2 linked regions of the Homo sapiens genome follow. The protein of the gene in region 1 purifies or fractionates together with the protein of each later gene. This does not show direct contact. Each region holds a gene or a part of one and is shown on either strand. Other genes may lie near its edges. The genes, in order: OR12D3 and ALDOB.

Region 1 (4,034 bases):
AGCTGTTTGAAATGAAAGTTTAGGTTATTGGTTTTTCAATATTTCTTTTTTTCTAACATATGCATTTAAGGCTGACAATTTCCCTCTATTTATTTCTTTAGCTATATGCCAAAAGTTTTGATATATCTCATCTTCATCATTGTTCATTTCAATTTTTTTCTAATTTTATTTGAATTTTTTCTTTATGAATTATTTGTGTGTATTACATAATATGAAGCAATTGGTGAGTTTCTAGATGCATTTTTCTTATTGTTTTTTAATTCCAGTGTGGTCAAGGGACATTCTTTGAATAGCTCAACCTTTTGAAACCTTTTGAAGCCTTTTGGTAATACTCAACTCATGCTTGATTTTGTAAATATGTACAAGATATACTTGAAAATAATGTGAATTATTTTTTGGTTGGGTTCAGTGTTCTTTATATGTTAATCAAATTTGTAAATTATGTTGTTCAGATGTTTATATCCTTACTGACTTTTTGGCTGATTCTTCTGTCAGGTATAGAGAGAAACTTGTTAAATCTTCTCATTGTGATTGTGGTTTTAACTATGTCTTTATTTCTGTCTATTTTTAGAGTTATTTTATGGAGAACTTACACTGGAGAACTTATGATATTGTGGACCAATTATTAGCAGAAGAATCTTAGTAGGCATGGGTGGGAGGAGTATCCTAGTTAGCCTTTCCAATTCCTCAGTGCAAGGGCTCCCTCTTCTGTTGATAAGGTGGTGATTATTATTATTGTTATTATTATTATTATTATTAATTACTTACAAATGACAAGCTTCCTTTGTTCTTCATATATTTACTATACCTCTTCTCTCCATCACCTTCAGTGCTTAGACTGTGCCTTTTTCTATCCCCTGCCCCACAGAAATTCTCACTCCCTGGGAGGTACTCCCCTTTTGGATTGAAAAATTGGGGGTGTTTTCGAAGTTCTTCTACTAATGGGACCTCTAACTATTTCAAGTTTTTCCCAACTACATCCACTGCCTCATTGCTATGACACAGTCTTGTGACTAATGATGCTAATTTTGCTGTTTTTTTCTCCTCTACTCATACAACATTTGGTTTGTGGGTGTTTATGTTTCTTACTTTCACTGAAAGTTTGGGTTGTCAGAAGACATGTGTTACTCTCTTGTGGCTTTTATGTATCTTAGAAGAAGTGATGAAATCCCCACTGAGCTACATCTGAATTTTTGCCAGAACCTAGAATCATAAGTTGAAAAACTATTCCCTGTTTGTATGTTTAAAATTTTTGTAATACATAATTCTAATGCCATACATGAGGTTATGATTATGTCCATCAAATCTTGCACTTCCTAGTTTTGAAAACAAATGCCCTTTATCTATATCTGATTTGTTCATAATATAATGCTTTTATTAGTCTAGTGCCATTTTAACAGCTCAGAATTTATCAGGTATATTAGTCTTCCTCAATTTTGTTGTACATAAATTTAGTTTTACTGTTCGTAACTATTCTTCACACTGTTGCTCACCCCTAGGTTCCTCCAAATAGTAAACTTGCTTTATTTAATCCTCACAGTGTAAAATTAAAAATTCAGAAAAATTAATTCTGTTATTGTTAAATTTGCTTCCCAGAGCAATGGAGAATGTCACTACAATGAATGAGTTTCTTCTACTTGGCCTGACTGGTGTTCAGGAGCTGCAGCCTTTCTTCTTTGGGATTTTCTTAATCATTTACCTGATAAACTTGATTGGAAATGGATCTATATTGGTGATGGTTGTTTTGGAACCACAACTCCACTCCCCTATGTATTTTTTTCTGGGAAACCTTTCTTGTCTGGATATTTCTTATTCTTCAGTGACACTGCCCAAGCTGCTCGTAAACCTCGTGTGCAGTCGCAGGGCTATATCTTTTCTAGGCTGTATCACCCAGCTACACTTCTTCCACTTTTTGGGAAGCACAGAGGCCATTTTACTGGCTATCATGGCCTTTGACCGTTTTGTTGCCATCTGCAATCCTCTTCGCTACACTGTCATCATGAACCCCCAGGTGTGTATTCTGTTGGCAGCTGCGGCCTGGCTCATCAGCTTCTTTTACGCTCTGATGCATTCTGTCATGACTGCACACCTGAGTTTTTGTGGCTCTCAGAAACTCAATCACTTCTTCTACGATGTCAAGCCGCTCTTAGAATTGGCCTGTAGTGACACATTACTCAATCAATGGCTTCTTTCCATTGTCACAGGCAGCATATCCATGGGAGCTTTCTTTCTGACTCTTCTCTCCTGCTTCTATGTAATTGGCTTCCTTCTGTTTAAGAACAGGTCCTGCAGAATACTCCACAAGGCTCTGTCCACTTGTGCCTCCCATTTTATGGTGGTATGTCTTTTCTATGGACCTGTGGGCTTCACATATATTCGTCCTGCTTCAGCCACCTCCATGATTCAGGACCGGATAATGGCCATCATGTATAGCGCCGTCACCCCTGTACTGAATCCACTAATCTACACCCTTAGGAACAAAGAAGTGATGATGGCTCTGAAGAAAATCTTTGGTAGGAAGTTGTTTAAAGACTGGCAGCAACACCACTAGGACTAATGAGGGATATCTGATTTCTATTAAGACTGATTTCCATCACTTCACTGTAAGAAATGATTTGTTTACCTGGTTTATATTTTTCTTTCAAAAATTTTGAGCACATATTATATTAGGCAGTGTAGTAGGTTCAAGAAACACAGGAGCAAGCAAAACAAATTCCATAATGTCATCAAACATAAAGTTTAATGTGATGGAGGCCCCAAATAACCAAACGCGTAAGTACATATGTCAGGATAATTCGGTGGCAAGGAGAACTAAGGAGGTAGGAAGTATGGGGAGGGTTAGAGTAGGAATCTGCTGTGTAAAAAAGAATGTGGCATTTCTCCTAGGACAAAAACCTTTGGAATTTTCCAAGTAATAGAAGTATCTTACTGAAATTCCATATGAGATAATCTTTATTTTTGCCTATTTTTTTTCCTTTTGTGTTTCCTTCAGCAGGAAAGTACTGATGATAATTTTTCTCACAACAGTTTTTATCTAGAATATCATTTTTGTTAATCTTAATTCTTGAAGAGAATTTTTAATGGGTATTTAATTTTAGGGAGAGATTTTTCTAGCCATTGAAAATATCTTGTTTTTCCCCAGCTTATTGAAGTATAATTAACAAATAAAAATTGCATATATTTAGGCTTCACAACATGATGCTTTAGTATATGTATACATTGTGAAGAGACTACCACAATCAAGCTAAACCTACATTACTGTCCCTGCATTAGTTTACTGTTGAATACTAGAAGTTCTTCATTCTATCTAACTGCATTTTCATACCCATTAAGCCAATGTGACAAGCTCTTTGTTTCAGTTGGAGTGTTTGCACAATTTAAATTTGATAAATTTTTGATAGAATTAAATTTAAATTTATCCTCCAACTAAATTTTTGATAGAATTAAATTTAAATTTGTCCTCCAACTGTTTGCCTTTCATTTGTCCTATTTGTCCGTTATTGCTTCTTCTTTCATTTACTGTTTTTTATGGGAATATTTTTATGATTTCATTATATTTTCACTATTGTCCTTTTATTTATACCTTTTTATTTTATATTTTTGTGGTTACTCTGGGGTTTACAATGTACATTTTAAATTCACAAAATATTTCTTCACATAATATTACACCATTTAAGATGTATTGCTAGAGTCATGCCATACTGTACTTCCATCTCCCTGCTCATGCTTTGTGATTTTAATGTCACACATTTTACTTTTACTTATGTTATTAGTATCCAAGATACTGCAATTCTGTTTTTTTTGAAAAATTCTATTATTTTTAAGGTAATTAAAAATAATAAAAATGTCTTTTACACTTAAACACATATTTATAATTTCTGGCACTTTTGGTCCCTTCATGGAGACACTGATTTTCATCTCGTATCATTTTTTTGTTGTTGTTGTCTAAAGACTTTCCTTAACTATTTCTTGTAGTAAAGTTCTGCTGGTAATAATTTACTTCAGCTTTTGTTGGCATGAAAAAGTACTTTGCC
Region 2 (3,192 bases), on another chromosome or scaffold:
TGATGGACTGAGGAGACCTAGCTTACATGATGGAGGGATTGTGAAAGCGCAGGTCATCAGGGACATCCACACAGAAGAAGGGAAGCTGAGTTTATCATCAAGGATGGTGCTTCCCAAGCTCCAGTGTGGATCTGAATCACCTGAAGGTGATTTTGGTTTTGTTGTCATGATCTTTTATATTTACACACAATAATTGTATAGATCTGTGGGGTATCTGTGATTTTTTATATATGCATATAATGTATAATGATCAAATCAGGATAATTAGGGTATTCACTCCAAATATTTATTATTTCTTTGGGTTTGGAACATTCCAAATCTTCTCTTCCAGCTATTTTAAAATATGTAATAAATCATTGTTAACTATAGTCATCTTACTGTTGTATCAAACACTAGAACTTATTCCTTCTGCCTAACTGTATTTTTGTACCCATTACCAACCTCTTTTCATTTCCCCTACCCCCACTTGAAGCGCTTGTTAAAAATGCAGATTATGGGTCTCACCCACTGAGTTTCTAATTCAGTAGGTCAGGGGTAAGGCCAGGGAATTTCTATTTTTAACATGTTCCTAAGGGATGCTGGTAGACCATGAAACACAGTTGGAGAACCATTGATGTAAAATGTAGAAATAAGTCCTGGAGAGAACAGACAATAGCAACACTGACTGGAAGAAGTGGTACCACTGAGTGACATTCAAATATTGTCGTAAGTTTCATAATTCTGAATTTATCTTTAACTGGAATGTATACAGGAAAGCAAATGATACTACAATAACTAAATAAAAATTACATATTCTTCTAGACCAATATAGGTAGAAAATGGAAATGTTTTTAAAATAAACATGTTTTTCTTTTGGTATAGTGTACTATACTAGTGAGAAATTTTTCAACTTTAGTTTCTAGTACTGTTGCTGCAATATTGTTGGTACTGAACAGAGATTTCCCCAGTAACTGACACAAACCTCAAGCTTACCAAAGAAATGCTCAGAAAACTGGGATAAAAAGGGGAGATACTTTATAGAAGGGGATGGTATCCCCAGCAATATTCAGCAACATTGCTGTAAAAAGAAGAAAATCTGAGTGAAGGTTTGACTGGTTTCCCATGAGAGGCAGACAGGGTCAAGGTGGGGTCACATTTACTCTAACCAGTCTCCTCTCTCATATTTGTCTTCTAGGCTAACTGCCAGGCGGCCAAAGGACAGTATGTTCACACGGGTTCTTCTGGGGCTGCTTCCACCCAGTCGCTCTTCACAGCCTGCTATACCTACTAGGGTCCAATGCCCGCCAGCCTAGCTCCAGTGCTTCTAGTAGGAGGGCTGAAAGGGAGCAACTTTTCCTCCAATCCTGGAAATTCGACACAATTAGATTTGAACTGCTGGAAATACAACACATGTTAAATCTTAAGTACAAGGGGGAAAAAATAAATCAGTTATTGAAACATAAAAATGAATACCAAGGACCTGATCAAATTTCACACAGCAGTTTCCTTGCAACACTTTCAGCTCCCCATGCTCCAGAATACCCACCCAAGAAAATAATAGGCTTTAAAACAATATCGGCTCCTCATCCAAAGAACAACTGCTGATTGAAACACCTCATTAGCTGAGTGTAGAGAAGTGCATCTTATGAAACAGTCTTAGCAGTGGTAGGTTGGGAAGGAGATAGCTGCAACCAAAAAAGAAATAAATATTCTATAAACCTTCAGCTGCTATCGGGTTTCACTTTTCTGCTCTTGCTGTCCAAAGACTCAGTGTATTTCATTACTTTTGACTCTACTAGACATGACTGGGTTTCAACAGTAAAGGTCTTCAACTCTTGCTAGTCATTGGAATCAAGCCGCAAAATTTTAAAAACTGAGATGCTCAGGCCACACCCCAGCTCAATTAAATCAGAAACCCTAGACTTGGGATCCTCTAACTATTAGATTTCTTAAAGCTCCCTCAGTAATTCCAATGTACAGTCAAGTTTGAGAACTACCAATCTAAATTTCAAGTTTGAGGGTATTTGAAAATTAAAGCCATTCACAATACGAAGCCAGCTAAAAATGTAGAATGATTTTGAGCAACTTGTGGAGTATAATAAGAGAATTAATGTGACTTCAATGCTTGGAGCATTCTTGTTCAAGTGGCCCAGGTTTGGTGAAACAGGACTACCTTGTCATCTGCACGTCCAGGCATATTTCGTAGTTTTGCAGTAAATAATATTCACATAATGATACTGTATTGACTTTCAATTTTCAGAATTAACCTATAGTTACAGCACTTAAGACAACCAGAGTTATAAAAGAGAATTTAAATATTATAACTTTGGACAATATAAAAGTGATGATTTAACTGACAGAAGCTAGGAAATATAAGGGGGAGGAGAAGTGGAAGAAAGCAAAGAGAGTCAGGAATACTACTTAAAACTGATGGGTTAAGAAATAGTGCTTTAATTCTATTTAAGTAATAAAAGAAATGGATGTAAATCATAAAAATATATATCTAAAATTAAAATATTGATGGTAGTATGCTAAATTTCTTACCTTGAATAATACAAAGACAAATGGTATTGTGTAGATTAACAAATGAAGAAACAGAGACTTAACATATTATTTAGAGGAATAAGACAGAATTAGCCAAAGGGGCTTACTCTAAGACCTGGGAGAAAGACCTGGGAGTCAGGGCACAGGAAAGATGACATTTCCTTATTACCTGCCCTCTACAGTATTTGAATATTTATTTCCATGTACTTGTCATTACTTTTCTAAAAACAACTACAGACAGTCATACAAGCAACTCAAGCCTATATGAGAGATCTATTAAGCCCACGGTTTTCATTTTACAGGTGATAAAACCAAGTCCAGAGAAGTAAAATTACTTACTGAGGATCCCACATTTATAGCAGAGCTGAGAGATTAAAATTCAGGTCTTCTGAACTCAAGTCTCTTGCTCAAAAAGTGGATACACAGCCAGAGATCTTACAGGGCAAGGTGACAGGCTGTGTTCAATATCTCTGCCACCCGTGGTGTAGTCTTGTACATTTCTCCTTGTACATTTCAGTCAATCATCAAGCACTTCATCTCCTACTATGTGCCAAGCTGTCCTAAAAGCAGGTAGGTAACACCTTGTGAGACAAAGCTTTTCTGCCAGATAGTTTTTATCTAGATCCTACTCAGCATCGCTGAATTCTTTAGATATTTTAAGAGGTATCT

What was found.
Region 2: the proteins of OR12D3 (region 1) and ALDOB purify together in Homo sapiens (affinity purification with mass spectrometry; one large-scale study listed by BioGRID and IntAct). This does not show direct contact.

Annotation. Positions count from the first base shown.
Region 1 is NC_000006.12:29,372,854-29,376,887, reverse strand, and holds OR12D3 (olfactory receptor 12D3), read left to right. Parts: upstream 1-1,596; 5' UTR 1,597-1,600; coding exon 1,601-2,551; 3' UTR 2,552-3,465; downstream 3,466-4,034. UniProt on the Homo sapiens protein: Odorant receptor.
Region 2 is NC_000009.12:101,419,887-101,423,078, reverse strand, and holds the end of ALDOB (fructose-bisphosphate aldolase B), read left to right. Parts: intron 1-1,174; coding exon 1,175-1,270; 3' UTR 1,271-2,519; downstream 2,520-3,192. UniProt on the Homo sapiens protein: Catalyzes the aldol cleavage of fructose 1,6-biphosphate to form two triosephosphates dihydroxyacetone phosphate and D-glyceraldehyde 3-phosphate in glycolysis as well as the reverse stereospecific aldol addition reaction in gluconeogenesis.